3 linked regions of the Homo sapiens genome follow. The protein of the gene in region 2 interacts with the protein of the main gene of each other region in a pairwise test. Each region holds a gene or a part of one and is shown on either strand. Other genes may lie near its edges.

Region 1 (7,419 bases), on a different chromosome or scaffold from region 2:
GTTAAAAGACTGTCTTGTATGTAAGCAGCTCACAGTTGTGTGGGACGTATAAAACACATGTATATATGCAGGTATGTTTGTGTGTATGAATGTGTAACATATACATAAAAACTAAAAAGGAGGGTGAGGATGAAGAGAGATGATAAACTCTCGGGTGTTTGATGTAGTTGCTAAGTAAGGAAAATGGAGGTGCGAAGGCTTGCTAATTGTGCTCGAACTTACAGAGTAGAGGAACTGTGGAACTGAGATCAGGCCAGACTTGACCCCTGATTGAGCACAGGAAGCCCAGGTGAATGCCAGTAAGATGACGGGGCACTGCTAAAAATGCACTAGGACAGGAAGGTGGCTCTGGCTTTGGAGAAGATAGAAAAATCTAGTTTGGGGCAAACCATTTTTGAAAAGTTGGCACGTTACCAAATGGCAGCACCTAACAGCTAACTGGTGATATAATTCTGGAGCAAAGATACACCAAAGCCCACCAAACTGTTCAACTCACTCGTGCCTCACAAAACCACCAGTGGCTTAATACTCTAGACTTTTCAATAATTACCAAAGTAGTCCTAAATATTCCCATACCCTACCTGATGTAGTCCCTTCTACAGGTCTTAAGCACTTTTTACCTTTTCATCCCATTCAATGAAATCACTAGGGGGCAGCAGGGCTGGGCCATGGAGGTAGACCTCATTCAAGCTAGCACTGGTAAAGTGTCCACTGTGTGACAGTCACTTGAGACACATCACATAGGATGTGAGTACCCCAGAGTACACATCACATAGGATGACATCACATCACATCACATAGGATGACACAGATCTGTTACCCACCGATTCATTTACAAAATCAAATGTCAGAAAACTCTGAGCTAAAATGTCTGCCACCTTTCACTAGATTCAAGTTTGGGGGACTACTACCTAAATAAATAAGCTGTGTTTCGTGAAATTCAGTACATTCCTACACAGATCAATAACAACACATGGGAGAACAGGTTCACTTGACACCTTAGCTAGCTTGATGTAGGACCTCTGCCAAATTACCTCTGTACCTATGTTTTCTTGTCTGTTATATTTCAATCTTGATTTTATAAGTTTAAAACTGACCATAAAAACATTTCCTAAGTACCAAGTGCTATATAATTCTGCCATGCTCCTGGGTAGACCCAACAGGCCTGAGGCTACACTGGGCTGGCAGGAGTGCGTGTAGAACAGGAACAGATCAGCAGAGCGTGCCAATTCAGGACACCTGAAGTCAAGGTCTGTGCTGCAAACTCCCTGCCACTACTGAGCAGTGTCCTTTCTACTGCCCATTAGGGACAGTCTATTGATTATGAAAGATTAAAGTAGTCAATTACAGCCTCAGTAATTTAGGAAACCCTACTTTCGGCTCCAAGTGTGACTAAAATCCTTGACAGGCAAATCACTTTTCCTTACTCAAATCAACCACGTATCTGCATGTCTATGAAGGGTGGAGAGAATGTAGAGAAGGCACAAACCTAAGACTCGGTTTCTGCCCTCAAGGAGCTGATAATTTGGAAAGGAGAAATCACGTCACAAGCAAAGGACTGCAGAAAATCTGGAAGATAGCAATGAGAACAGTTTCACCAGGGTGGAGCAGTTGGGAGCCAGGATATGCAGCACAGCAGAGAGCAACAGAAGTGGGACTCCACTTCCAGATGGCAGATGGGGCCAATACTGAACCCTTAGGGTGAGCCAGAAAAGATCTGTAGGTGTCAAAGGAGACTGAGAGAGGGTAACTATAAAAAGAAGCCAATGTACAGAGTAGATGTTATGAGGGTAGGGATGTATCCAGTAAGTAGATGCAACAGAAAGTTGAGTGCTCAAGGCTGGGCATGGGCATGTGGCTCCGGCCTGTAGTCCCAGCACTTTGGGACTGTGATTGTGCAACTGCACTCCAGCCTGGGCAACAGGGCAAGACTATGCCTCCAAATTATGAGACACATCTCATTTAAACCTCCCAACAGAGGAGTTTCTAGCTCTCATTTGGGGAAAGTAGGGCCCAGAAGGGTAAAGTAGTGTAAACCAAAGAAAATGACTGGCCGGACGCCATGGCTCACACCTGCAATCCCGGCACTTCGGGAGGCCAAGGTGGGGAGATCACTTGAGCTCAGGAGTTTGAGACCAGCGTGGGGAACACGGCAAAACCCCATATCTACAAACAGGTAACATTTGGGTTTTTGACAATCATCAAAAATGGTTAAGCTTTCAAAGGTCAAGCCTTTGATAAATACCATTTATACTACCTATTATAAACCATAGTAGTATAGAGAAGAGTGGTCACTTAAAGAGTAGGTAATGGGTATACAGGTCACTATATTATGCTTTGGTTCGTGTTCTAAATTTTCTACATTTTTCTGTAATGTTTTGCATATTCAAACAATCCAACTATACAAAGTCATCTTTGCAAAAACTGGGAAAAACTGAACACTGGGTACTGGAAAAACTGTTGGTTAAAGAAAAAAAAGAAGCCCTTATCTGTTAGAAACATACTCAAGTATGAAAAGTATGTAAGAGGCCGGGTGTGGTGGCTCACACCTATAATCCCAGCACTTTGGGAGGCTGAAGCGGATGAATCACAAGGTCAGGAGTTCAAGACCAACCCGGCCAACATGGTGAAACCCCATCTCTACTAACAGTACAAAAATCAGCTGGGCACAGTGGCAGGTGCCTGTAATCCCAGCTACTCGGGAGGCTGAGGGGTGGTGGCGGAGGCTGCAGTGAGCTGAGATCGCGCCACTGAGCTCTAGCCTGGGAGGCAGAGTGAGACTCCATCTCAAAAAAAAAGGCCGGGCTCGGTGGCTCACACCTGTAATCCCAGCACTTTGGGAGGCCGAGGCAGGCAGATTACCTGAGGTCGGGAGTTCGAGACCAGCCTGACCAACATGTAGAAACCCTCTGTTTCTGCTCTATCTCTGCTAAAAATACAAAATTTGCCAGGTGTGGTGGCACATGCCTGTAATCCCAGCTACTCGGGAGGCTGAGGCAGGAGAATCGCTTGAACCCAGGAGGCGGAGGTTGTGGTGAGCCGAGATAGTGCCACTGCATTCCAGCCTGGGCAACAAGAGTAAAACTCTGCCTCAGAAAACAAAACAAAACAAAAAACAAAAAAAACAAAGAAAGAATATATAAGATACATCTACTACGGTAGCCATAAAAATTGAAACAAAAATTGCTCTAAAGTATGTAATATTTACCAACACAAAGATGAGGATTAAAATTTAAAAAAATAAGAACTATTTTAGAAGGATAGGTGACTAGGATTAGCCTTAAATTATCCTAGCCCACACCTCCACCCAAAAGTAGGGAAGATAGATGTAACAGAAATAGCCAAAATGTTTATGAGGTTAAAACTGGGAAAGGAATGGAGTTGTTTAGTGGGTATAGAGTTTCTGTTTGGATTATGAAAAGGTTCTGGAACTAGATAGTGGCAATGGTTACACAACACTATGAAGGTACTCCATGCCACTAAATTGTACACTTAAAAATGGTTGAGGCTGGGCGTGGTGGCTCATGCTTGCAATCCCAGCACTTTAGGAGGTCAAGGCAGGAGTATCCCTTGAGGCTAGTTCAAGACCAGCTTAGGCAACAAAGGGAGACCCTGTCTCTATTAAAAAAACAATTATTTAGCTCAAGCAGCAGTTCTTTACATTTGTGCAGTCTCTGAAGAAGGCCAAGATGTAATCCTTTGGTCCTATTCTGGCCTGGAGGGCCACACCTTTCTTCCACTCAGCAGTCCCAGAGACTTAAGAGCTGCTGTATCACTGCTGCTGAGGCTTCTTTCGAAGGTCCTCACTGAAGCTGCTCAGCCCTTCCTCCTAAGATGAAGTTTCAGAGCCTGGCCATCCCCACTATCACCTTCTTCTTCATAGGCTCCAGTGTGCTGATGCCTTAAAATATGGTTCCCAGAATGGTTCACAATATTCCACATTTATAAAGCAAAGACCTATACTGATCTCACAACAGGTCTTTGTGTTAATACAAACGAAGGCAGGGGCATCAAACTACATTACTCATGCTTTCCCACCATGCACTTGAAGTATTTAAAATAGGAAGAAAAATCACAGCTTCAATTAGGAATATCCTTGGTAAAGCAGTAAAAATGAATCGTGACCCACTTTTTAGTACCCTATGTTATGAAACACGCAAAGCACTTCTGCTGCATACACAAGCATGATGGCTGCTGCAGGAAAAGCACTTGAGCTACAAGCTGAACTAGCTGTTCTTTCTATAGAACAAACTATGGTTAATTCAGACATGGGTACTAAGTTTTTTAAAAATGAAGTTAAGTCTGTTCCTTGAAGTAAAAGAACAGTATTTGGGTTTTTTGTTTTGAGACAGGGTCTTGCTCTGTTGCCCAGATTTGAGTGCTGTGGTGCAATCACTGCTCACTGCAGCCTCAATCTCCAGGACTCAAGTGATCCTCTAGCCTCAGCCTCCCAAGTAGGTGGGACTATAGGCATATACCACCACACCAGCTAATTTTATTTTTGAAAAGACCAGGTCTGGACATATTGTCCAGACTGGGCTAGAGTGATCCTCCTGCCATGGCCTCCCAAAGTGTTGGGATTACAGACATGAGCCACAGCACCTGGCCAAAATAACAGTATTTGTTGCCAATGGTAAAATTTAAGCTTTCAAGCAAAAAAGAGTTTCGGAAAACCTGTATCCATCAACATAAGCCTGACAGTCTTTCAATACTCAGAGACTTTTCTAACAGCTATGGTGAATGTGACTTTGATACTGTATAACAAAATGTACCAACATCTGGAACATCTGCATGGCTCTGCCTGGCTCAGTGAACAGGTCCTTTCCAAATCACCAACACCTTACAAATGTATGCACTGGTAAAGGATCCAGTCGGAGTACAAGATAAAGTGACTTTTTTTTTTTTTTTTTGATACAGAGTCTCACCCTGTCGCCCAGGCGGGAGTGCAGTGGCGCAATCTGGGCTCACTGCAAACTCCACCTCCCAGGTTCAAGTGATTCTATGGCTTCAGCCTCCCAAGTAGCTGGGACTACAGGGGCCCACCACCATGCCCAGCTAGTTTTTGTGTTTTTAGTAGAGATGGGGCTTTGCCATGTTAGCCAGGCTGGTCTCAGACTACTGACCTCAGGTAATCCGCCCGCCTTGGCCTCCCAAAGTCCTGGGGTTACAGGAGTGAGCCACCGCGCCCAGCCAAATGATGAACTCTAATGTAAAAGTATGAAGAGTTTATTGATAAGGTTTTAGGTTTCACATTGCAACTAACCTTCATAGAAACTACTGCTTATTGAGTTTTGGTATAGAATCAAATATGAATATCCAGAATTATTTGATTACTCCTCCCATTTCCAACTATTTATCTGTGCAAGGATTGAGCTGCTCCATAAAAGTCAACCAAAGCAACACATTCCAAGAGTGGAGACAGATGCAGGTATGAGAATCCAGCTGTGTTCTATTAAGCCAGACATTTAGAAGGCTCCAAAAATGTGAGTACACAGAAGGCTCCAAAAATGTGAGTATACATGAAAGACAGGAGAAGAATGTGCAGAACAAAGGGAGGTGACGGCCCCCCTAGCCCTGAACTGGAAGGCCATGCTTAACCAGAGACTCATCAACCGTGGAGCAGCCACATACTTGAGCTCCTTCAGAAGGTCCTGATCAAGACGGAAAATCACATAAATCATGACGTGGGGAAACTTCGAAGAACATTCGACTTACACAAAAGAAGTCTTAGACGTACATACAGCTGCCATTAGGTTCTATGAAAATGATGCAATCACACTCATTTCATGCCCGGGTGTGCAGGTCTAATCAGCATGATGTAAAAGCAACCAGGCGACAAATACTCTCCTGAACCTTCCAGGGGAAGCTGGAAGCCAGAGTGTGATCCTGGAAAGACATTCAGAGTCTGCTTTGTACGTTCTAAGCTTCCAGGGAGACTCCTTAAAATTGTGAAGTCTTTCCAGAACACTAAGCTTAATTTTTCTTTTTTTTTTTTTGGAGACAGTCTCTCTCTGTCGCCCAGGCTGGAGGAGTGCAGTGGCATGATCTCAGCTCAATGCAACCTCCGCCTCCCTGGTTCAAGCAATTCTCCTGCCTCAGCCTCCCAAGTAGCTAGGATTACAGGTATGTGCCGCCACACCCGTTTTGTATTTTTAGTAGACATGGGGTTTTGCCACGTTGGTCAGGGTGGTCTCAAACTTCTGGCCACAAGTGATCCGCCTGCTTCGGCCTTCCAAAGTGCTGGGATAACAGGCATGAACCACTGCACCCAGCCACAAAGCTTAATTTCTAATAGAAACATAAATTGAAGGCTGGGTACTGTGGCTCACACAATGAGCCTTGGGAGGCTGAGGCAGGAAGATCCCTTGAGCCCAGGGGTTTGAGACTAGCCTGGGCAACATAGAGACACTCTGTCTCTACAAAAAAATACAAAAATTAGCTGGGCATGGTGGCGCACCCTGTAATCCCAGCTACTTGGGAGGCTGAGGTGGGAGGATGGCTTGAGCCTGGGAAGTCGAGGCTGCACTGAGCTATGATCCTGCCACTGCACTCCAGCCTGGGTGACAGAAGGAGAGCCTATTTCATAAATAAATACATGTTTCTAACTCATATGTGGGGAAAACGAGGCTCAGAGAGGTGAAGAAACTTACTTCAGATCACACAACTAACACATGGCTGAACTGATGAAACTCTGGTCTGCCTTATTCCAAAGCCAGGGCTTTTACATGAACCGTCATGCAGAGACCTCTTAGCAAATCCAAATATTTCTGGTAACACTTTTCATAGAGGATAATGGTTTGGAACTAAGCAATGGAACACTTGGAGTGAAGAAGGATAACAAACCTAAACGACTTGACATTTGACATGTAAACAGCATTTTAAAATAAGCTTTTCAATAGCTTTACAGGCCCTAGCATCAGTGAAAACTAGCTGTAGTTTTTATACACTGCTTTCCTTCCTATTACATACAAATCTTAAAATATGCTCAGAGACAGGAAGTAGAATGGTGGTTGCCAGGGACCTGGGGGAAGGAGGGCAATAGGGAATTACTATTCAAAGGGGACAGGGTTTTAGTTTTACAAGCTGTAAGAGTTAAGGAGCTGGATAGTGGTGATGGTTATACATTACGAATACACTCAATATCCCTGAAATGTATACTGAAAAATGGGTAAAGTGGCACATTTTATGTTATGTATATTTTACCACCATAAAAATTTTGGATAAAAATATGCTCAGAAATTTAGACAGACATGCTAAGTTTAAAGATTCAAAGGTTAGAATTCTAAACTCCTAGGCTGGGCGTGGTAGCTCATGCCTGTAATCCCAACACTTTGGGAGGCTGAGGCGGGAGGATCACTTGAGTCCAAGAGTTCAAGACCAGCCTGGGCAACATAGTGAAACCCATCTCTATTTAAAAAA
Region 2 (7,419 bases):
CCCAGGGAAAGCCGCTGTCCTTTCCTTATCCTCATCCTGGGTCCCATGCTTTATACAGTTAGCCTCATTCTGCTGGTTGGACAACTGTTAACAGAGTTCCCGGATTCGGCTGGTAGTGCTTAAAGCATCCTCAACATTGCCTCGCTTGCACCAGCCCTAACCCAGCGGGCTAGGAAACAAGTGCCTCAATCCTAGGGCCAAGCACTTCTCTGTTCTCCCCTGCGTCGTCCCTCCAGTATGGAGGCGAGGGAGGCACGTTGGCTTCAAAGGAGCACAGTGGGGTGGGGGGGGACCTGAACCACACCTGCTGCCTGCACTTGTGGCGGTGAAGATTCCCTTGATCACAGTCACTGCCATCAGACTCTGGGAAAAAGCAACAAGGTTTCACAGCTCACCAGTAAGCGAATCTTAGCTCTACAGCTCAAATGTACAGCATAAAGTCTACTTTCCTCTTGAAGAAACCATAAGCTACCAGCTGTTGGGGAGGGGCTGGAGCAGAGCATATGAAGCAGCTGCAAAAAAAAAAAAACCAAATCAAACTCATGACGCAGCTGGCCAAGCAAGCCAAGTGCTGTCCCGCCATCCCAGCACAGAACTGGAAGGCAAGTGACTCCCTGTCCCTGTTGGTGGAACCCAGGAAGGAACCTCAGCAGAGCCCTCCGTGTCCTCCTCTCAGCCCAGCCCCTGCTTTCCCTTCTGCTGACAGGACAACCAGGCCTGTGTCACCTACTCCATCACAAGGCCTGGCTCCTTCAGGACCTCATAAGCCTTTAGAACCTTGGCAAATTGGATTCTATGCATTCACTTAAATAGTAAAAGTAAAATTTGCAATAATGAAAAGGCTGACACAGTAGCACAACATGGTTTTGGTTTAACAGCAGCTTAAAAAGGAACAAAAAGGAAACCTCTCATGCAGACACATCAGGTGGCATAAAACAATAGGCAATTCCACGCGGAGCATCATTAGCCATTCTCTCTGTCCGCACACAGGACTCTGGCTGCACCTCAGGGGCAGCAGCTGCTTTCAGGTCAAGTCTCTCACCCTCTCACCCCAGGCAAAAGCCCTTCCTCTCCGGCCTCAGGCTGACCCCTCCTAGCTCTCAAGAGAATGACCAAATGCGAGTGCCCTTAGTGCAGCACTTGCTACCATCTTCAATCCCTTCCCAACCAGCTGGGATAGAAGATGCCATCTGATTGGAATATGAAAATTAAAGCATTTCTCTAATAACATAGTACCATTGATGAAGTCTCCATAGATTTTCTAACCCAAATGTGTGTGAATATATATATATTATATGAGAGTGTATAATATATATATATAATAATTTCTATATATTTTATATAAATTACATATATATATCTATATATAAATAAGATACTTTCTGTCGCCATTACGTTGCACCGTTCAGAGCTGCAAGACAGCAGTACAGATAGGGAGAAATGCCCAGGAGCATCTCATCATGTGGTGCATTTAGCTCACTTCACAAGCCGTGCAGCTGTCCAGAGTCTGTCTTTCCATCAGTCCTCCTCTTTTCTCTTCACTTCTGCTTGGTTTTTATGAAAACAATGGCTCTGATGGATTTTGCACCTGTGCTAGCGCTTGGGAAAGGTCCATGCAGGAATGGGCACAGTCACATGATGAATGAGATGGCATCATCCCAAAAAATAAACTGAAACAAACAAAAACTTAAAAAAAAAAAAAGAACAGGACTAGAAAACTTAATTTTTTTTGACATATCTAAAAAAGGGGACAAGAACAGTAGCATTTGTTCTCCCCATGGGGACAGGAATGAAGAGGGAGGAGGGAAGAGGGACTTGATTTCTTCTGTTCACAAGAGAATGGTTGGAGGGGATTCTTCAGAGTTTTTCAGGGGATGGGACCCAAATGTAGTGCCCAGACTGGTCCTCAATGATTTGTTTGATTTTGTTATAAATCTCTTCCAGTGAGTCACCCTGTACAATGGCTAAAGTGAAGAGGAAAACAAAATTATTACTGTGGTCCATAGCACATCCCCCAAACCCAGCAATCCTGCCTCTCCCAACAATCCTACAAGTCCCCCCTCCACCCCCTCACCCCTCACATGAAGGACATGTTCCCAGGAGTATGGGTTTGGGCTTGGGTTCACTGGCTGGCTGCCTGTGTGTTCAGGGCAGTAAGGGCAACCAACAAGGTACCCCAAGTCCAGGGCTTGAAGTCAACTCACTGAGACAGTGAGACTAAGTAGTAATGACCAGAAAAATGTGTTTATTCAAAAGATGTTTATTGAGCACCCACTATGTGCCAGACCTTGCAGTTCATGTTGTTCTTGGGTGCCATAAGGCCAGCAGCTTGTTATTCTAAAGCAGCCTTACTAAAAGATTTGGAAAATCGCAGTTCTCCACAGAAAGAACTGAAAGCCACAATTTCTGGCAAGAGGCAGCGCTCCTGGGCCCATCACATCTGCTGTATGTCAGAGGTCAGCCCAGCAAACAAGGACATGGATGCTGATGGTAAAGGGAGCTCTGAAGACCCAAGGTGTGTGAGGACATTTATGAATTCTTTACACAGTTAACCTAGTGTCACCACCAGCTAGAATGGATTCGGCACTGCCTTGCATATATTTATGTATATATATGTCACTGTACTTCAAAAGGTGAAGAACGTATTACATAGAAACCTTCCCAATGTTTCAGGAACTGACCTTACACACACACACACACACACACACACACAGACAGACAGACAGACACCCCAACAGACAACTTGAACAGCACACCGAGGAATCATCATCATCAACAAACGTTTATTCAGCACCTAAACATGCAAAGCAAAGTACTGGGGGAGGGGGAGTGGAGCTGAAACGGAGGGAGACAGAGTAATACAGGGAGCCTACAATCTAGTAAGGACAAGACAAAATGAACAAACCAACAATTCAAGGAAGCATTTGGTGAGTGGTTTATGCTATAAACTGGCTGAACTGCTATGGCTGGACACGGGGAACTTGTGTGCTTTGGAAAGGTTTGTGCTCAAAAACTTAAAAGCAACTGGAAACTCCGTGCAAGGTTTCTACATTCTGTCTACACCTCTTTGAGACACTTATAGAAACAGGTACCTGGCTAGTTCCCCAGAACCCCCCGCAGGGCAGCAGGAGTCTTACCTGTAAAGTACTCTCCAAATTCCTGCTCCAGTTTCATGGCTTTGTCATAGATCTTATTTGCTTGTTCATATGTCTGCCTTCGGTTCATTTCCCTGCCAAAGACAGAAGAAAAATAGTTCTGAACCAGATCTTATGTTCTGATTAACCATAAAGGATTATTCCAGGATCCCTAAAAATCTGCTAAGCTGCCCTCTCAGAGCAGCAGTGGCCCGTAGCTAACTCCTCAAACCTGCGTTCAAAAGTCCAACCATGAACATATGCACAAGCCCTCAAAACAGGAGCGCCCAGTGACCAGAGCTGGGGCACAGAGTTTCTTTCAAGTTTCTGCCCAGCAAATCACTTTCTTCTCCATTTCCCTTCCAGACCCGATCTTAGCTTGGTGTGTCTGAGTTCTCAGTTCAACACTTACATAAGGGCTTCAATGGACTTGGGCTTGATGAAAATGGCAATGGGGTAAAGTTGTGCTTGCTGCAGTCTCTTGATAGCATTGCCGGAAACATCTAAGATGCAGTGCTTGCCCTGAAAAAGCAGAGATTGTAACAGCCCAGCCACTCCCTATTCACCAAGTCCCAAGCAGAAATCCAGTGACATTCTAAACATCCACCTTGGCCGGGGGTGGGGGTGAGGGGAGGGGCACGAGGGCCACCCAAAGTGGCCTAAGAAATTCGATCTCTGAAGTAGACAGGCCCTACTTTTTGCTCCTATTACCCAGAAAAGGCCACATCTGTCCAGGGCCCCCTATTCCCTGTTGGGTAATGCTCTGGGGTGAGTTGTATGAAGGAGACAGATAGCTTCGTCAAGGCGCTGGGAGTATGCAGATGTGCTATGGCTTTGGTCAGCAGCACTGTTGGGCAGCTCCTGTGTTGGAAGGATAAGGATCCAAGTGGAACCTTGGCATAAGCATTGGCCTCCCCTTTGAGGCCATCTCCTGTACACTTACCCTCTCTGCAACTGCCCGCACTGACTGGATGCTGGTCCCATAGAGGTTATCATTAAATTGGCCCGCCTCGATGAACTTGTTGTCCTGAATATCTTTCTCCATTTGTTCTCGGGACACCACAAAGTGGTAGTCTTGTCCATCCACCTCATTATCACGTCGAGGCCGGGTAGTATCTGAAGGAAGAAAGGAAATGCTTTGTGGCCCAGGGGCAGTGATCCGCCCCAAACCAAAAAATACTGACTGGTCCATTCTCATCTGGGTGGGTCACTGGGCCACTCCATTTTTTTTTTCAAGTAAGTGGGAGAAAACAAGCAGTTGGGAAGCGGTTTGTCTGGCCTACTTCTCTTCCAATCTCCAGGTCTCACACAGGGGGCTATTTGCTTTAGCTTAAACTGGACTAGAAAGGTGGGGTTTCCTGAGCTAAAGCATGGCAGAGGGTGCCAAACTTGGTAGAGGAGACAGTGAACCTAACAAACTGTTAATGGAGTCACATCAACACCACTTTGGCTGGGCCTCCGTATTTGTCCAATCATTCTCAACCATCACCACTGAAACTTCCCCTCAAGAGTGAGCAGCCAAGCCTGATGGCTTAATCTCTCCAACCCCATCAGCTTTTGGGGAATATATTGCCACCTACTGTTTTCCAGCGTGTCAAATGTACCCTGTCCCCAAATAGCCCTAGAATCTGATCCCAGACCTTTTCCATAAAACATTAGAGCAACAATTCCCAGGGCACCAAGCCTCACTCCTCTGGGCCTTCCTGGACTCTTACGTGGCACACAGGATCCAAATTTATGTGGAAATTCGGAGATCAGGTCATCATTGACTCGGTCCTTCATTGGGCCCAGGATGATCACAGGCCTTGCATAGTGAACTAGAGAGGGAGAGCATCGAGACAGTGAACAGAGGCCCCCACCAGACAGCCTGTCCTACCCCTGAGTCTGGCTAGAACACAGAGGCTCTGGAGCAGAGACTCAGACAGGGTAAAGCATCCTCAGACATTGTCTGGCTTTTAAACAGAAAGACATCAAAGAGCCTTTAATTTGAGAATATCTAAGTTCAAGGCAAGTCTGAAACCGGAAGCTGCTCCCCTTCTAACAGAGTCAGAAAAAATCTCTGCACTGACACCAGTAACTGAGCAAGGTTTTTGCAGAGCAGCCACTGAAGGGAAGAACCTGGACCTCTCTTTTAGCAGTGGCTACATCTACTGAAATAGACTTTCCTTGTAAATTTGCCCCCTCCTTTGGAAGGTGTCCTGGCAGCAGGCAAAGGCACAGAGAGAAGTGCACACTGGATGCACCCCCTTCCCTATGACACTAGGAAGAAGCATAGAGAAGAAGGAGCCCAGGGGCTGGATGTGCCATGAGTCAAGCCTTCCTCCTCCTCCAGGTCCCTCCCTCTGCTGCCACAGCCACCCACTGTATTGAGCCCCACGACCAGGAGACCAGCACGAAGACAAGGCTCTCAGAGGAGGCTTACTTTCTTGCCGTGTCACTGGCTCATATGACAAAATAGCATCCTCTTGTCCTTCTGCAACAAAAAAGAGAGATAGGTTAGCACCATATGATCTGCCTCCTTCTGTACAGTACTCCCCGTACCCCTCCCCTGCCAGGACACAGCCTTATCAGGTGGTCCTTGCCACCACCTGTGATCCTTTCTGTTTTCTGCTGGTGAGAAAGCACATGAAACCCTTCACTGGCTCTGAGACAGGAGTCAGCAGTTCTCTTGTTCAGTGAAATATCACTGGGCAAAGGGCCAAGGCCCAGAAGCCATGAAGCCTCCACCCCAAACCACCCCAATTTGTGAGGAACTCTTCTTGTAGGTAACAAGTCAGCTGTGTGCAGTAGCCCCCTTGCTCTGGTAAGAATGACAGGGACACTTTGACTGGTTGAGATGCTTGCCCGAGTCCCCTTCATCAACATGCAGGGGAGTCAGGGCACACACCCAGGTCCCCAAGCAGCCTAACTTTGCCCTTTTAAAGGTCTACCAACCCACCTCCTGCATTGGAAGCAGCATCCAGAAAAGTGGCACATGGCTCTGCTAAGGTCCCCAGTGCCCTTTAAGAGCAATGCTGAACCTGCTGTCTCTTCCTGGTGGAGCCCCATGTCGAGCCTAGCAATGTTGAGGTTTTCCTAAAACAGTCGTCAAGCCACTCGGTGCTGGGTGCCTGGAGGTCCCAAAGTGGCTGATGGCAGTCCCAGGGAAAACAGTGATATTTGCATCAAGGCACACAATGCTTGCTAAAAGGCTTCTTCTGAGCCTAATATTCCTGGGCAGATTTTACAAGGCTTCTAGCCACCATAGCTCCTGAAAAACCAGTGCTCCCAAAGTTCATGAGGTTTGAATTACGGTTTCTCTGGTCTGGTCACAGGATCTCCCAAGGAGAACTTGGCAATTACCTCATCCTTTAACTGGCCCCAAAGGCAAAGAGGTCCTAATGACCTGGAAAGGCAGATTTAGGGCAGTGTCCTAGAGGAGCCATTTTTCTTTTGGTCTCTGAGCAAATCTATAAACCTGGCAGCACCTATGGCCCACAGTACCCATGGCAGGGATTTACTCTTTGGCAGTTTACCCTTCCCAGTGCCAGGGATGCTTTTAAGTCAGGTCCCGGCCAGCACTATAGGGCTTATACTCTCCTTTAATCCATGGGGTGAACCCCAACCCATAAGGAGAATGAACTGGCCACAGCATTTCTAGGATCTCAAAGTGTACATGGCTAAAAGAAGCACCAGCCTCTGAGCAGCAATGGCAGCTGTGCAACACTGGAATGAGGATGGCTGGGATACACAGTGGAGCTACACGACATGGAAGGAATGACACACACTTACTGGAACTGCTTTCGCTGTCACTGGTGTTGGATGTCACTCCCTCTGCAAGCCAACAAGAAAGAGACTCCAATTCAGAACACACCACTGAGAGGTCACATGCAGCACAAAACTCAAATGCTCCAGGAGCGAGACACTGAGCTGCCAACTGAGTCAGGCCACCAGAGGCCTGCCACATCCAGGCTACCAACTGGGAGGCACAGCTCCAATCCTGAGCCCCTGGCCCTCTCGTACTTGTCCCCAGAGCCCTCTTGGTCTGCCAAGTCCCTCCCTATGTACTACAAGCCATACTTCCTTCAGCAGCATCCTCTTCATCTGAATCAAATTGACCTGGATGGTTTCCAAATCGTATTTCAAAATGCATCTCCCAAGGCTAACAACAGGAAAGAAAAGACAGTGACAGGAGCAAAGAGAAGTCCAGGGACCAGTCTGCTCATGGGTGTCCCCCGCCCAACAGAGCCCCTGAAGTACAGAACCATGTGGCACTCCACAACTAAGAGGCCAAACGCTGGATGGG
Region 3 (6,896 bases), on a different chromosome or scaffold from region 2:
TTTTTTAAGGAAACAGAATGCCTCAACAAAAAATGTCAAGTGAGGGTAGGACGGGGGCTGCCCATGTGTGGTCCCTGACATACATGCTCTTTTTTTTTTTTTGAGATGGAGTCTCACTCTGTTGCCCAGGTTGGAGTACAGTGGTGTGATCTCGGCTCACTGAAATATTCGCCTCCTGGGTTCATGCAATTTTCCTGCCTCAGCCTCCTGAGTAGCTGGGACTACAGGGGCACACCACCACGCCCAGCTAATTTTTTTTTGTATTTTTAGTAGAGACGGGGTTTTGCCATGTTGGTCAGGCTGGTCTCAAACTCCTGACCTCAGGTGATCCGCCCGCCTCAGCCTCCCAAAGTGCTGGGATTACAGGCATGAGCCACCATGCCCAGCCAATTCTCCTGAAGGTCCTCTGCAACCCTGAGGGTTTGGAGAACCATCAGACAAGTTCTGTGCCAAGGTAAGAAGACTCTTCAAGATTCTCTCCAAAACCTCTTCCCAGCAGCACGGCGAGGAACTGCACAGCTGAGAGTCTTGGGAGACCCAGTTTCTCCTCTTCCTGCTCCTCCTAGGCCTCGTCGCCTACAGATAGTCAATAAGGCAAAAGCAGAAGCAGAAAGAGGGGCGGGGGCGGGACCCCATACACACCAGGGACAGAGTGGCAAGGAGCAGCAAAAGAAAGGTTTCATTTTCTTCTGTTTATTTCAAGAGAACAAAGATTCAACCATCAGTTCTGTACAAAAACATGGTGTGAGAGCCATGGGATCCTCGGGCCAGCCCCCTTCCCGCACTTGAGCCCCGGGCCCCCCTAATTTGCCAAAAAACCAGGAGAAGACCAAAAAATTCAAACTCTGGGGAAAAAAATTACTATGAAAAAAAATCAGGGGAGACCTTCCTGGGCCTCCCTTTCTCCCTATCCCCAATCTAGAAATTTAGTGGGGGTCGCGGTTCATGGCCATGGCAGGAGGTGGGGCAGATGGGTGTCGGCAGATTTAGTGTTTGGCAACCAGTGGGGCTGGGGGTGGGATCTGGGAGGGAGCCGAGGGGCCTGGGGAAGGGAAAAGATCTTGGACCCTGCCCCGGCCCATAGGACACTCAAAAACACTTTATAAAAATTGGGGCCACAGAGTAGAAGAAAAACGAGTCATCAGAATCAAAAACTAAAGAGTGGAAAGATTTTTTTTTCTTGTCTAAAAGGCAAAAAACTACAAACAGCCCAAGTCCTGAGCTCCCCAAGACCTGGATCCTCCACTGTCCCCCTGAAACCCGGCAGGAGGCGGGATGGGGAGCACAAGAGGTGGGTTCTTAAAAAAGTCACCCCTGGATGGGAAAGCTCTTCATCTTCTGCCGCCTTCCTCTGCCTCCCGCTGCTGCCGAGGAGAGAGATGGAGAGGACCGGGGCTATGCCGGCAAACTCAACTTCTTCCCCTTTAGGACTGTGAGGAGAGAAAACAGGGAGGGCATTACCGCTGGGGCCCCTGCAGGGAGGGGACAGCCTCCCACAGCCAGAGCAGGGCAGGCACGCTAGATGGGCAGATCCACAGGGAGGGAGGTCCCCCAGGACTCACAGATACATTCCTGGTTTCTTTCCTTCCTACCCTTTCTCACTACTGGCAATTTTCTTTCTTTCTTTTTTTGAGACAAGGTCCCACTCTGTAGCCCAGGCTGGAGTGCAGTGGCATAGTCACAGCTCCATGCAGCCTTGACCTCCTCAAGCAATTCTCCCACCTCAGCCTCCCAAGGAGCTGGGACCACAGGCGTGCACCACCATGCCCAGCTAATTTTTTTATTTTTTTATTTTTTATAGTGACAGGGTCTTGCTATGTTGCTCTGGAACTCCTAGGCTTAAGAAATCTCCCTGCCTCAGTCTCCCAAAGTGCTGGGATTACAGGTATGAGCCACCATGCCCAACTAATTCTTTCTTTACTTGTTCATTCACCATCTCCCCCACCAGAATAAAAGGGAAATGGAGGCCTTTGTCTATCTTTTCTCCTCCTAATGTATCCCCAGAGCCTAGCACCTGGCTGGGGACATAGAAAGTACTCAATACATTTGTTGCATGAATAAATGAATGAATTTCAGTGGGCTGAGTCCCTGCCCTGCCTGGCCTACGCTCCAAGTGACATGGGGGCTAAGGACAGAAACTCCTTAGCCCTTAGGGAGGCAGAGGCTAACGGTCTGAATTCCTAGGAGGATGGTAGGCCTGCCACCCCAGAAACCCGGCGAAGAAATGCTCCCTTCTTTGCATAATACAGGGGTAAGGAGACCCCAGTCCCCAGGGAGGGCAGGAGCTGCAGAAATAGGAGGTTCCCTTCCAGCCGTCCCACATTCCAGCTACCTTTGGTGATATAGAGGTAGAAGAAATCGCAGTAGAGGACTGTCTGGACCAGGCCTGCCACAATGGCGATGAGGTCGAAGAAGCCCTCGAAATGGTAGCGCCAGATCCAGTTGAAGAGATAGAGCGTGCGGTAAACGCCTAGCGCAAACAAGTAGTGGCTGGTGATGGTCTCCGCCTCGCCGGTCTTGCTCACCATGAACAGCTGCGGCAAGATGGCCACTGACTCCAGGTAGATGGAGAAGGTCCAGAGGATCTGCAGAGAGGCCGGGGACATGATGAGGTGGGAGGGGACAGGGCGGGAGAAAAGGCAGAGGACAACATTGCAGTTACAGGTGCCGCGAAGGTGGAGAGAAGGAAGGTGATCCAGGTGCTGCCAAGTGCCAGACACAGTTCTGCCCGAGTTACTGGTACCTCTGATTTAATCATCACCATGGCCCGGCGAGGAGATCCTATGATTAGCACACTTATTCTACAGATGAGGAAACTGACACCAGAGAAGGTAAGATACTCGCCCAAGACCATGTAGCCAGCAAGCAGCAGAGCAATGATTCGAACCAAGGATTCGCAGTCCGTTCTCATGAACACTTTGCAATTGCGCCTCTCTGAAAGGCAGGCTGGGTTGGAATCTTGCCTTGGAAATTTCCCTTCCTTTTTCTTTTTCTTTTTTTTTTTTTTGAGATGGAGTATCACTCTGTCACCCAGGCTGGAGTGCCATGGGGTGATCTCGGCTCACTGCAACCTCTGCCTCTTGGGTTCAAGCGTTTCTCCTGCCTCAGCCTCCTGAGTAGCTGGGATTACAGGTGCCCACCACCACACCCGGCTAATTTTTGTATTTGTAGTAGAGACAGGGTTTTGCCTTGTTGGCCAGGCTGGTCTCGAACTCCTGACCTCAGGTGGTCTGCCTGCCTTGGCCTCCCAAAGTGCTGGGATTACAGGCATGAGCCACCGTGCCGGGCCCACATGCCATTTCTTGTGGCAGGCTGCATATGCTGTTCCCACAGCAGGAAAAGCTCTTCCCCTACACTGTCACACATCTGCCTCCTCCGTATTCTCCCAGCCTCAGCTCATTAGTCACCTCCCGAGAGGGACCCTCCCTGGCCATCCTTCCCCCAGGACTGTCACATCACCCCATCTTATCTCCTTCCTGGCCACTCGCACCAGCAATTGAGCTCTGTGAGGGCTGGGATCCTACTTCTTGTTCACCCCGTGGCCCTAGCACCTAGCACAGTTCCTGAATGAGTGAGGAAATGGGAGTTAGCATCTATAAAGGGGTCCCCATGTGCTCAGCACAGGCCACCATTTAGGGAGCACTGACAACCATCATTCATGAGCAGGACAGGACATCATGGGACAGGGAAGAAGACATCTGCCAGCCCCCTTTCAGTCCCCAGCTCCCTGAAAGTGCCACCTGGGGTGATCTGTGATCTGCAGACACACTGAAACCTCAGAGAGCAAAGCCAGGTGGCAGGTGTGGCTCCTTGGTTGTCTTGGTTTGTGGAAGGAAGGTGGGGGGCACCAGGACCTATTCATAACAACTCATGCTTTTCTAGCATTTACGACATCCAAGGCATCGCTCCTTAGGGTGTTAACTGGCCTGAGCCTTAACCCCATGAGGTAGGTACTGTTGTCATTCCCATTCTACAGATGAGGAAACTGAGGCCCAAAGGATAAGAAACGTGTCCAGATTCCCACTGAAGCACGTAGAGTCCAGGACCTGCTCCCAGAATCATCCAGAATCCTCCAGGGAGGCTCTCGTGAAGCCAGGTTAGTTGATGCTGCTGGGAAACGAACCCATTAAATTGATGCCCATTCAACTCTCACCCCTGGGGTTGCCCTTAGGGAACAGAGTCACCGTTTAAAGAGAGACAGAAGGTCTGTTGCTTTTTTTTTTTTTTTTTCCTGAGGCCGAGTTTCACTCTTGTCACCCAGGCTGGAGTGCAGTGGCGCGATCTCGGCTCACTGCAAACCTCCACCTCACGGGTTCAAGTGATTCTCCTGCCTTAACCTCCCAAGTGGCTGGAATTATAGGCACTCACCACCACGCCCTGCTAATTTTTGTATTTTTTTAGTAAAGACAGGGTTTCACCATGTTGGCCAGGCTGGTCTTGAACTCCTCACCTCAAGTGATCCACCCACCTCACCCTCCCAAAGTGCTGGGATCACAGGCGTGAGCCACTGCGCCCAGTCTTGCATTTTTATCTATTCCATGCTGTTTGAATTTTTTTTTTTTTTTTTTGAGATGGCGTCTTGCTCTGTCACCCAGGCTGGAGTACAGTAGCACGATCTCAGCTCACTGCAACCTCTGCTGCCCGGGTTCAAGTGATTCTCCTGCCTCAGCTTCCCGAGTAGCTGGGATTACAGGTGCATGCCACCATGCCCGGCTAATTTTTGTATTTTTAATAGACAGGGGGTTTCAGCATCTTGGCCAGGCTGGTCTTGAACCCCTGACCTCGTGATCCACGATCCACCTGTCTCAGCCTCCCAAAGTGCTGGGATTCAGGCGTGAGCCACTGCGCCCAGCCTGATGTCTGAATTTTTAAAGAATATTTTCCTTAGGTCAGGCACGGCAGCTCACACCTGTAATCCCAGCACTTTGGAAGGCTGAGGCAGGTGGATCACTTGAGGCCAGGAGTTCAAGATCACCCTGGTCAACATAGCAAAACCCTGTCTCTCCTAAAAATACAAAAAAATTTTACCTGGGTGTGGTGGCTCATGCCTGTAATCCCAGCTACTCGGGACGCTGAGGCACGAGAATTGCTTGAACCTGGGAGGCAGAGGTTGCAGTGAGCAGAGATCGTGCCACTGCACTCCAGTCTGGGTGACACAGCAAGACTTAAAAAAAAAAAAAAAAAAAAGACGCCTGGGTTCTGGTCTGGCCTCCTCCACCTTCAGCAAGCCGCACTACCTCCCTCAGCCTCAGTCTCCCCATCTTCAAAATGGGTCTAGTAATCCCTAGTCAACAGGGCAGTTATGAGCTAAGTCAAGGGCTTGGATAAGTGATCCAAGCAAGGTGGTAACAATATGTTTGCAAAGTCCAGGGCCTGGAGCCAAGCCCAGGATTCCCACCACAGCATGATGCAGCCTCCCTCTGATATCTCTGACCCATGGGCCAAAGTCACCCTCTGTTGGATTTGTCTGGCCTATACAGTGCTTTTAGAGATATGTTTTGAAGGCCAGGCACGGTGGCTCATGCCTGTAATCCTAGCACTTTGGGAAGCTGAGATGGGAGAATTGCTTAAGACCAGGAGTTCAAGACCAGCCTGTCAACATGGTGAAACCCCATCTCTACTAGAAACACAAAAATTAGCCAGGCGTGGTGGCAAGCACCTGTAATCCCAGCTACTCGGGAGGCTGAGGCAGGAGAAACGCTTGACCTGGGAGGCAGAGGTTGCAGTGAGCCAAGATCGTGCCACTGCACTCCAGCCTGGGCGACAGAATGAGAGTCCATCTCAAAAAAGAAAAAAAAAAAAAAAAAAGAAATATAGTCTGAATCTGTGGCTAAAATTTTAAAATGAGACATCTTGCCTGAAAACTCCTGAATTATGGCTTCTGTTGAAAAGATCAGCACATCTGGCCACCCAGGCCTATCTTCCTATAAGGCAGGAGTGGGCACAGGTAAGAAAAGGTTACCCTGAATTTATGATTCCTGCCAGGCCCCAGGAGGCAAGAGATCGCAAACTTAGCACTGGCTCTCGCAAAATTCCTCCCAGGAGTTTGTACAGGTCCCAGCAAAACACCATGGAATAAAAATCATTAACAGCGAACATTTAAAAGTAAAAGTATCAGAGATGGGACTAAACACTTCAGTCATTGAACATTGATTGACACAGCACTTCCTACCTCATCCCAGATACTGTGCTTTATTAATACCAACCTCTCATTTGAACCCTATGACATAGGAACTGATTATCTCCATTTTACAGATGAGGAAACTGAGGCACAGGGTAGTTATGTGATTTGCCCAGAATCCCATAGCTGCTACATGGTAGAGGCAGGGTCCAAATCCTTACACTCTGATTCTAGAGTCTTTATGTGTTTTGACACCAGGCAGTGCTGCAAAGTCTCAGTAAATTCTCACAATGACCTGATCACAACTTTACAAATGTGGAAACCGAGGTACAGAGAGGTCAAGTCACATGCACGGGATCATGCTAATAGAAACTAGCAGATTTGGAGCCGGGCGCGGTGGCTCATGCCTGTAATCCCAGCACTTTGGGAGGCTGAGGAGAGTGGATCACCTGAGGTCAGGAATTCGAGACCAGCCTGGCCAATATGTTGAAACCCTGTCTCTACTAAAAATACAAAAAATAACCTGGCTTGGTGGTGGGCATCTGCAATCTCAGCTACTCGGGAGGCTGAGGCAGGAGAATCGCTTGAACCTGGGAGGTGGAGGTTGCAGTGAGCCAGAATCATGCCACTGCCTCCAGTCTGGGCAACCGAGCGAGACTTTGTCGAAAGAGAAAGGAAAAAAGAAAGAAAGGAAGAAAAGGAAGAAAAGGAAGAAAGGAAGAAAGGAAGGAAAGAAGAAAGAAAGGAAAGAAAGGAAGAAAGAAAGAAAGGAAAG

The links.
Region 1: the proteins of DLG3 (region 2) and EIF4H interact in binary tests that used the Homo sapiens proteins (3 or more experiments, as listed by UniProt).
Region 3: the proteins of DLG3 (region 2) and KDELR1 interact in binary tests that used the Homo sapiens proteins (3 or more experiments, as listed by UniProt).

The regions. Positions count from the first base shown.
Region 1 is NC_000007.14:74,177,123-74,184,541, reverse strand, and holds part of EIF4H (eukaryotic translation initiation factor 4H), read right to left. Parts: intron 1-7,419. UniProt on the Homo sapiens protein: Stimulates the RNA helicase activity of EIF4A in the translation initiation complex. Binds weakly mRNA.
Region 2 is NC_000023.11:70,496,708-70,504,126, reverse strand, and holds part of DLG3 (disks large homolog 3), read right to left. Parts: intron 6,948-7,419; coding exon of another isoform or gene 6,906-6,947; intron 5,608-6,905; coding exon 5,557-5,607; intron 4,952-5,556; coding exon 4,850-4,951; intron 4,251-4,849; coding exon 4,078-4,250; intron 3,657-4,077; coding exon 3,547-3,656; intron 3,230-3,546; coding exon 3,138-3,229; intron 1,965-3,137; coding exon 1,858-1,964; 3' UTR 1-1,857. UniProt on the Homo sapiens protein: Required for learning most likely through its role in synaptic plasticity following NMDA receptor signaling.
Region 3 is NC_000019.10:48,381,898-48,388,793, forward strand, and holds the end of KDELR1 (ER lumen protein-retaining receptor 1), read right to left. Parts: intron 2,586-6,896; coding exon 2,333-2,585; intron 1,431-2,332; coding exon 1,396-1,430; 3' UTR 678-1,395; downstream 1-677. UniProt on the Homo sapiens protein: Receptor for the C-terminal sequence motif K-D-E-L that is present on endoplasmic reticulum resident proteins and that mediates their recycling from the Golgi back to the endoplasmic reticulum.